Linked DNA regions of Homo sapiens. The protein of the gene in region 2 purifies or fractionates together with the protein of the main gene of each other region. This does not show direct contact. Each region holds a gene or a part of one and is shown on either strand. Other genes may lie near its edges.

Region 1 (3,444 bases), on a different chromosome or scaffold from region 2:
TTCCAGGTTTTCTCTTTGTTTTATCAGTGCCAAGATGACCTGTTGTGTCATATAATTTAAGCAGAGCTTAGCATTTATTTTATTCTTTAGAAAACTTAAGTATTTACTTTTTTAAAGCTATTTTTCAAGGAACCTTTTTTTGCAGTATTATTGAATTTATTTTCTAAATCAGGATTGAAACAGGAACTTTTCCAGGTGGTGTTAATAAGCCATTCAAGTGCCTTACACAGCTTTGAAGAAACTAGGACTGCAGTGGGCTCGGATAGGCCCATTGAGGTTTTTAGAAAAGCAGGATTTGTTTTGTTAGGGAGGCATGATTTTGGTGAGATCTTTCTGGAAGAGTTTTCCGCCTCTTTGTGATGCTGAACACCCCCAAGGTTCTCCCCTCCCCCCGCTGCCCAGGTGACTGGCAGGAGCTGCGACTGCCACGTAGTGGTGCCTGGGCCCGACAGCGGGGCTCTGGGCATCCCGGGTGACCTTGGCCCATCTGCCTGCATTCCCACCCCCTTGGGCCTGGCTGGATCCCAGGCAGAGGGACCTTGCTGCTGTGTGATTGGAACATTCCCAAATATCTTGTGAATTTGTAATCAAATTGGTCTCATTGGGAAAGACTCTTAATTAAGAGGCTCAGGCAAGCACAGAGGCAGCCCGTGGGTCTCTGTCTCAGTCTGGAGGCAGCAGGGATGCTGCTGGGAGTCCATGGCACAGGCCACAGCCCCTCACCTTGCCGCGGTGGCTGGCAGCACGCCTGCCTTGCTCTGCCCCATGCCCTGAACAGGCATGAGAGCTCCACGTCCCCTAGTGCACCCTGAGAGGGGGCTCACAAGTGACCGATCCTGGGTGCCTCAGGGAGCTCACTGAGGGCGTGCAAAGTTGAAAGTGGCAAGGCTGGGGGAGGGTGTCGGGTAGAGGGAAGAGGGCAGGGGGCTAGGGGAGGACTCAGAGGCCATCTGCAGGGCCAAGCCACAGGAAGGGCTGAGCTGGAGGTGGGCAGGGCTGCTCCAGGCAGGTCAGAGCAGTGCAGGGGGAGGAGAGGAGAAAGGGAGGAAGCTGGGCTGTGTGGTCCCCATGAAGGCATTCAGAGTCCACCTGCAGACAGCGAGAGCCCCAGGAAGGTTTGCACAGCTGTGCCCCAAGCACCTTGGCCTCCTCTCAGCTCGCCGAGGAGGCACGCTAGAGCCGCCTTCCCGGTGGGAGCCCTCTGTCCCACAGGGAGCGGGGAGCCAGCTTTGCTGGGGCCCTACCTGCATGCCCAGCCTTACCCCTCATTCTCACAGCACAGATGAGGTTGAGACCATGCAGTCAATGCATTGCTTAAGGTCTCTTATTTACAAAAAAAAACCTTAAACATAGTCGCTGTCATTCAGACATTCAGAGAATGGTTGGCCACAAACAATGACCAAGTATTGCTTGGCTTAACTTGAAGGCCTGCTGTCTCCTTCTGGGGGTCAGGGACGCAGCTCCACCCTCACCACTAGCCCACCCTGCCCGTGGGCATAACCTTGACGAAGAGAGAGAATGATTGGCATCTGCTTTTCTCTTTTCTTTGCTAATAATTCTGTTCCTGGCTGCCGAGAGTGAAGTTTCACCATGTGGAGGTTTGGCTCCTATCACCTGGTGGTCTGATTCATACCCTAGCCTGAGGCTCCACTGGAAGATCTCGCAGCCTCAGTGTATGGGAAACCCTTTCCCCAGGCTTGTCCCAGCACTGCCGCTCCCCACCCCTGAGCCAGGACCCCAGAGGATGGCCATGCCCCGTGCCTGGCAGAGGTCTGGTGCCAGCACTGGGAGCTGCTCCGCCCTTGCCTTGGGGCCGAGGGAGCCCTCGTCCACCCCTGCACAGCAGCTGGGCACAGAGGAGCGCTCTTCCATCTTGACCAGGACTGCACCAAGAAGCACCAGGTGTCTTCAGCCTCCAACCTCCGGGGCGACCTTCTCTTCCAGCCACAGTCCCATGAGGGCCCCTAGCCAGGGACACTGGTCTGTAAATTGTAATCCTTTCTCCAGCCCAGCTCTCCACTTGTTCCTTGTGTGAGCTGAGCAGGCAGTGCACCTCTGAGTGTCCCTTTTGTAAGGCCCAGGGGTTGCACTGAGTCTGCAGAGGCCGCGACCTCCTAGAACGCTGTGGGTGCAGGTGAGCCGGCGTGTCCTGGGGAGATGCTGCCAGCACACAGGGGCCCTCCTGCTGCCAGCAGGTTGGGGTGGTTAAGTCTTATTAGTGTCTATTCTTAAAATTAAGTGGGCTGGAGAAGAATGGAGCTCCACATGCCAGCACCGTATATGGAATACAAAAGCTGGGGAAGCAGGGCCTGCCTTACAGGTGTGGCTGACTCTGAGCCCAGGCCTGCAGGGGTGGAGGGCAGTCCCTCAGAATCCCAGAGGCAGTCCCAGCCTCAGAACCCAGGATAGGAAATGGGTGTGTTTAGTGGGGAAAGGGACGGGGTGCAGACGGCAGGGCCAGTATGGGGCCCCCTCCCTCTCCTCTCCTCTCCTATGGTGAGCCCAGCGTGGGCACCGGGCCGTCTCAGCCGTGTTCCCAGGGCTGGGAGGACAGCTCTGGCCCTTCTTAGGCCTAGCCTCGTCCCAAGCTAAATGTAAGCCAGTTGGGCTGTGTTAAAGGAAGCAGTGTTTTTGGTTCGATTCTGCCTCTGTAGCTCAAGGGGGGCAGCCCCCAGAGTCCTGTGCATTCTGCCAAGGCTCCATAGCTTTGCCAAATGCACGGAGCTCTGCCATTCCGGTGCAGTGCAGGCCTTGCGAAGGGTTTATCTGCGTTCGTCTCGGTGGGCTTCTCCTGCATGGGAGTTGTGTTCCTGTGCAAGGGGGAGCTTTGCTCCAGGACAGGATGACTGTCTTCCCTATTCTTAGGGACAAGTCCCAAGATGCCAGAAAGGCAGTCTCCCAAGGACCCACCATGCAGAAGTGTCAATAAACCACAAGTTCTGAACTCTGTCGCCCGAGTCCTGCCTTCTTCCTGACTTCTGAGCATCTTGTCCCCTTTGATGTCCAGATGTGTTTGGAAGCTGCTTTAATATTGGGGACCATCTGCAAATCTTGCGAAGCGAGCAGACAAATTCTGGAGAGAGCCCTGGTGGCCTACACCCTCCTGGTCTAGCCAGCAACCTGATTTTCCTCCCTGAGGGGCTCTGAGCCCACCCCCACCAGCAGCAGGAAGGTGACAGGAAAGGGATTAAGCCCCTGGGACCTCACATGACATTGGGGAGCCACAGGAGCATTGAGGACCCCTCATTTTATCCAGGAGCCTGATGTGCCCCAGGAGGTTCCATCCTGAGGATGGAGACCCTCTGACATGACGCTCTTGAGGCCCACCATTTATACCCTCCTGGCACCTCCTGAGGCCAGGTGTGGTGGCGCACACCTGTAATCCCAGCACTTTGGGAGGCTGAGGTGGGAGGATCTCTTGCGCTCAGGAGTTTGAGACCAGCC
Region 2 (5,698 bases):
GGAGTTGCAGCTGTAAGGTGGCAGGGCCTACCCATCTTACAGAGGTGAAGACGAGGTCCCTCTGCCTCTGCTGCAGACATGGCGTCTGCACCCACCCTTCCACCCTCAGGGCCTGGCCACGGGGTCCTGGGTCCCCCACAATACTGTGCACTCGACCTGGTTGACCCAGGACACCCTCCTCGTTGAACAGCCCTGGCTACACCTGCTTCAGTGCAACTGGAGCCCTCACCGGCGAGTGCCTGACACCTCGGCCTTTTCTCTTCCGGAGGGGCGCTCCTCAGTGTGTTTGGGGTCTCCCTCGCTCCACGCCCTCCAGGGGGCCGCATGTGCACTTGCCCTGCATTGCCTGGCCCCCGAGGTTCCAGGGTCCCAACTGTCTACTAACCGGCTTCCCGACAGGGTGAGGGTGAGGTCGCATCTACAACCAGAGCCAGCGCTTCCCCGCCGCCACCCCTTTTCTTGGAATCCCGCTGCTTAGCTACCTGCGGGTGTCATTGGCCCCGCCCCATTTCCCCACGCTTTGAAGGGGGCGAGTCTCCACAGACCTCCTAGGGGGATAGACAGCAGCTGGTGTGACCCCACACACCCAGTGAGGTCTCTGGAGCCGCGGTGCGGGAAGCGGGGACCCGGGTTTGAATCCTGCCCCTCTGGTGTGGTGCGGCCTCTTCCCACAGACTTTTGGCCTCAGTGTTCCCCGCCTGGGAAGTGGGGACTGGCCCTGGTACCTGGCTCCAGAGCTGCACCCAGAGGCGATCAGCCCGGTGCGGGAACGGGGCGGGGTGGCCGCAACTACGGGCCACGGATCCTGACCCGCCCTGCCCACGATGACTATCCACATCCTCATCCTGCTGTTGCTCCTCGCCTTCTCCGCCCAAGGGGACCTGGACACTGCAGCCAGGTGAGAAACCCGGGTGGCAGCAGGGACAGGGCGGGAGGGAGACCGTAAAGGGCGAGCGCCCTCTCCCGGCCGCGGAACGGGCAGGTGATCTGTAAGCCTCCCCGCTGGTCTTGGAGTGCTTGGGTGCCCACCTCCATCACGCTCCATCTCTCAATTCGGTTTGAACCCGGTTTTCTCCCACGCTCCCTCTCCAGGCGAGGCCAGCACCAGGTCCCCCAGCACCGCGGGCACGTCTGCTACCTGGGCGTATGCCGGACCCACCGCCTGGCGGAGATCATATACTGGATTCGCTGTCTCCACCAAGGAGCCCTCGGGGAAGGCCAGCCACGAGCCCCAGGACCCCTACAGCTATGGGCGCCGCCGGTGGCGCGAGGCGGAAGCCCGGCTCGGTTCCCAGGATTCCGGCCTGCAGCGAGGGGGCTAGCGCAGTGCCCAGCTCGCTGGGTGACCTCGGGCACGGCTCGTCCCCTCCTCGGCTTCAGTTTGCCTATCTGTATGTTGGAGCTTCTACTCCACATTTCTTCTCCCCTAACTCCAGCCCCTGAAACCGTCTTCCCCAGTCCCTCCCCGGGCTGCGACTAGGTTGGACCTAGAAGCACACGGGACCAGGCTGGGCGAAGAACACTGACGCCCAGAGCCGAATAAACAAGAGTTCCGTGTTTCAGTCTCTGCTTCTCTGTACCTATTTCGACCTCTCAGTCGAGGCTGGGTCTCTAATATACCTTTCTCTATTAGCCATGCTGCTTCTCCCTCACGGAAGTCCCACTGTCTACCTTGAATCCAACCCGCTGTGGCGCCTTTCTTGCCAACTCAATCCATGCACCTTCCGTGGGTGGTTTTGGCGGGCCGTCCTGACCCCCAAACATCCCTCCTCCCTCCCTGGCGTGAAAGGGCTGAGATTTGCTCCGGCACCCTACGCGCCTGACGTTATAATGCACCTGGGGTGGGCTGCGACCTCCCAGCTGAGCCTTGTTCCTCGAAGAGACAGGAGACTAAGAGACAATGAGCTGAGTGAGGAGCCCAGGAACCCGGGTTCCGAACAGCTGCGTAGAATGCGAGCGGCCAAATGGTGGAGAATCTGGCCGGGTAAAAGGAGACGGAGGACTGGGGATCGAACGGATGTAGGGGATTGGACGCCGTGGCTCGAAGGGGGCGGGGATAGAACGCGGGGATTGGAAGGAGGCGGGGATAAAACCCGGGACCTGAATACCCGGCTAGGGACACGAGAGAGAGGAATCGGGGTTTCTGGGTGACGGTGATCTCGGGGTGGGCAGGACTCCAAAGGCCCGTCGACCCGGTGGTGGACTCCTTGCACTGGGATTGGACATATGCAAGCGGGAGATTTGGGGCCGGCGCTCAAAATCGGGGGGCGGGGGTGGACTCGGGTTTGGACCCCAGGATCCGATCAGCGGACCCTTGATTCAACGTGGTAAGTACTGGACCCCAGGGGCTCGGGCTCCGGCGGGGCCTGGAGTCCTGTGTCTAGGGTTGGGCGTGCAAGCCTCTCCATCACTTGTCCTCGACGCTCGCCTCCGCTCACAGCCTCAGCATCCCAGGCTGCGAGGCATGCGCAGTGGGTGCTTCCTTCCCCATTCCCTCCAGCACGGGCGGGGGGAGGGGACGCTGAGCGGATGAATTTATAGACACCATCCCCCTCGCCTTGGCATGAAAAGCGGCAATGGGGTGGACAGCGTCAATGTCTAACAGGTGTTTGTTTCATATGGGTCTAAAACTAATGCTTTTCTCAAGACCCCGCAACTCAGCCTGGACCAGTTTCCCTCCTCCACCCACCCCCGAATCTTGAGAATCCTGTACTGGGGGGAGGGCACTGCCCCCGCACCATGTTCTTGGGAGAGCAGGTAAAGGGGTTAACGCGAGCTATCCCTCTGGCCTCTCTATGCGTTCCCAGAGGTCCCGAATTGACGTCCTTCCCTCAAAACCTCCGGGTCTACAAACCAGGACCCTCAAGACCCTTCAGGTGCTTAGAGAAGGATGAGCTAGGTTATGTAGTCCTGGGTCGGCGCAAAAAGGCAGCTGAAAGCGTGAGATCCCGGGTCTGAGGGAGGAGGGGCTGGGGCCTGGGCTTCTGGGTCTGAGGGAGGAGGGGCTGGGGGCCTGGACTCCTGGATCTGAGAGAGGAGGGGCTGGGGCCTGGGCTTCTGGGTCTGAGGGAGGAGGGGCTGGGGGCCTGGACTCCTGGATCTGAGAGAGGAGGGACTGGGGCCTGGACTCCTGGGTATGAAGGAGGAGGAGGGGCTGGGGGCCTGGACTCCTGAGTCTGAGGGCGGAGGGGCTGGGGTCCTGAAGTATGACTCTGCCCGACTCAGGGCTCCAGCGTGACATGGCTGAAGCGCACCAGGCCGTGGGCTTCCGACCCTCGCTGACCTCGGACGGGGCTGAAGTGGAACTCAGTGCCCCTGTGCTGCAGGAGATCTACCTCTCTGGCCTGCGCTCCTGGAAAAGGCATCTCTCACGTTTCTGGGTGAGGAGCGGTGCTGGTCGGTTTCCTTCCGGGGATCCAGGTTTCTGCTTCCGGGATGTCTGAGGCTCACTTCCGGCATTTCAGCTGGTTCATTTCTGGGAGACTATCACCCCTTTTTCTTAGAATTTTGATGTCTGCTCCCAGGACCCCTTTAGCAATTTCTCCGTGGCTCACTTCTGGGATCCACAGCCCCACCTGCTGAGAACCTCTGCTCACTTCTTTCACCCAAGAGGGGAACTGGGCCCCCCAAAAACTACCCACTTCCAGTTTCTAGAACTCCATATCCTTCCCTTATGGTGAAATTATCATTTCTTCCTTTCATCTCCAGCTTCTTTTGTAGTTGTTGTTTCTGAGACACAGTCTCACTCTGTCGCCCAGGCTGGAGTGCAGTGGCGGGATCTCAGCTCACTGCAACCTCCGCCTCCTGGGTTCAAGCAATTCCCTGCCTCAGCCTCCCAGGTAGCCGGGATTATTGGCGCACGCCACCATGCCTGGCTTATTTATTTATTTATTTATGAGACAGAGTCTCACTCTGTTGCCCAGACTGGAATGCAGTGGGGTGATCTTGGCTCACTGCAACCACCTCCCAGGTTCAAGCGATTCTCCTGCCTCAGCCTCCCGAGTAGCTGGGATTACAGGCATGGATTATACGCCCAGCTAATTTTTGTATTTTTAGTAGAGACGGGGTTTCAACATGTTGGCCAGGCTAATCTCGATCTCCTGACCTCAAGTGATCTGCCTCCCAAAGCGCTTGGGTTACAGGAATGAGCCACCGCGCCCGGCCCAAACTCCTGCTCTGTCCCTGTTCTGGAATGCGCATGCCCAATGTGTAACCAGCACCCATGTCTGTCCCAGGGTTTCTGGTTCTAGAACTCTTGCACTGTCTCCATACAGGGACTCCCTGCTTGTCACATCCTCTGTGTGTGAACTGGGGTCTGGAACACCTGTGGGGTCATGATTGAGTTTGAATCCTGACTCCACCGCTTAGTAGCTGTGTCATCTTGGGCAAGCACCTCTCTTGGAGTCGCAGTTTCCCCTCGTGGAAAACATGGGTGTTGACAGCACCTCCCTCACAGGATAGCCTTGAAGACTAAATTAATTCTTCTATGTCCTGGCCCATGGCGAGGTCTGAGTGTTAGCTTCTGATATTGTTCTTCATTCATTCACCATATATTTATGGGGCATCCGGTAAGGGCCTGGCCCTCTTTAGCATGGAGAACACAGCAGATATCAACAGACAGAATCACGCCTGGGCACTGCGGGCTCACGGCTTTAATCCCAGCACTTTGGGAGGCTGAGGCAGGAGGATCACTTGAGCCCAGGACTTGGACACCAGCCTGGACAACATAGGGAGACCCCATCTCTATTAAAAAAATAAAGACAGGTCGGGCACGGTGGCTCATGCCTGTAATCCCAACACTTTGGGAGGCTGAGACGGACGGATCATGAGGTCAGGAGATCGAGACCCTTCTGGCTAACACGGTGAAACCCCGTTTCTACTAAAAATACACACACACACAAATTAGCCTGGTGTGGTAGTGGGTGCCTGTAGTTCCAATTACTCAGGAGGCTGAGGCAGGAGAATGGCGTGAATCCGGGAGGCGGAGCTTGCAGTGAGCCAAGATGGCGCCACTGCACTCCAGCCTGGGCGACAGAGCGAGACTCCGTCTCAAAAAAAAATAAAATAAAATAAAAAATAAATAAATAAATAAATAAATAAATAAATAAATAATAAAGACAGAATCCTGCTTTTATAGAGTTCTCATTCGAGTTGGGGGAGAAGGCAATAAAACAGATGAGCAAAACAGAAGGCAATAAAACAGATGAGCAAAATATAGGGTATGGTGACATTCTATAGTGTCATCTGATATTGATGGTGACACATGCTATGGTGAATGATAAATCGGGTAGAGAAGAGTGATGTGGGGGTGTTGCAGTTAAATAAGGGGGTGGCAGGCCAGGTGCGGTGGCTCACGCCTGTAATCCCAGCACTTTGGGAAGCCAAGGCAGACAGATCACGAAGTCAGGAGTTCAAGACCAGCCTGGCCAATATAGTGAAACCCCATCTCTACTAAAAATACAAAAATTAGCCGGGTGTGGTGGCAGGCACCTGTAATCACAGCTACCTGGGAGGCTGAGGCAGAAGAATCACTTGAATCCAGGAGGCAGAGATTGCAGTGAGCCAAGATTGCGCCACTGCACTCCAGCCTGGGTGACAGAGCAAGACTCCGTTTCAAAAAAAAAAAAAAAAAAGGGGGTGGGAGCCGGCGGCCAGGAGGATCTCCTGAAGCTGGGATGCTTCAGCAGGCTAAACTGAA

The links. The genes of interacting proteins can lie anywhere in the genome.
Region 1: the proteins of CPT1C (region 2) and PPM1F purify together in Homo sapiens (affinity purification with mass spectrometry; one large-scale study listed by BioGRID and IntAct). This does not show direct contact.

The regions. Positions count from the first base shown.
Region 1 is NC_000022.11:21,918,925-21,922,368, reverse strand, and holds the end of PPM1F (protein phosphatase 1F), read left to right. Parts: 3' UTR 1-2,944; downstream 2,945-3,444. UniProt on the Homo sapiens protein: Dephosphorylates and concomitantly deactivates CaM-kinase II activated upon autophosphorylation, and CaM-kinases IV and I activated upon phosphorylation by CaM-kinase kinase. Promotes apoptosis.
Region 2 is NC_000019.10:49,689,014-49,694,711, forward strand, and holds the start of CPT1C (palmitoyl thioesterase CPT1C), read left to right. Parts: upstream 1-2,102; 5' UTR 2,103-2,327; intron 2,328-2,482; exon of another isoform or gene 2,483-2,605; intron 2,606-2,647; exon of another isoform or gene 2,648-2,757; intron 2,758-2,807; 5' UTR 2,808-2,876; exon of another isoform or gene 2,877-2,940; intron 2,941-3,225; 5' UTR 3,226-3,239; coding exon 3,240-3,380; intron 3,381-5,698. Other genes in the region: ADM5 (putative adrenomedullin-5-like protein precursor), read left to right, coding at 825-898, 1,093-1,480. UniProt on the Homo sapiens protein: Palmitoyl thioesterase specifically expressed in the endoplasmic reticulum of neurons. Modulates the trafficking of the glutamate receptor, AMPAR, to plasma membrane through depalmitoylation of GRIA1.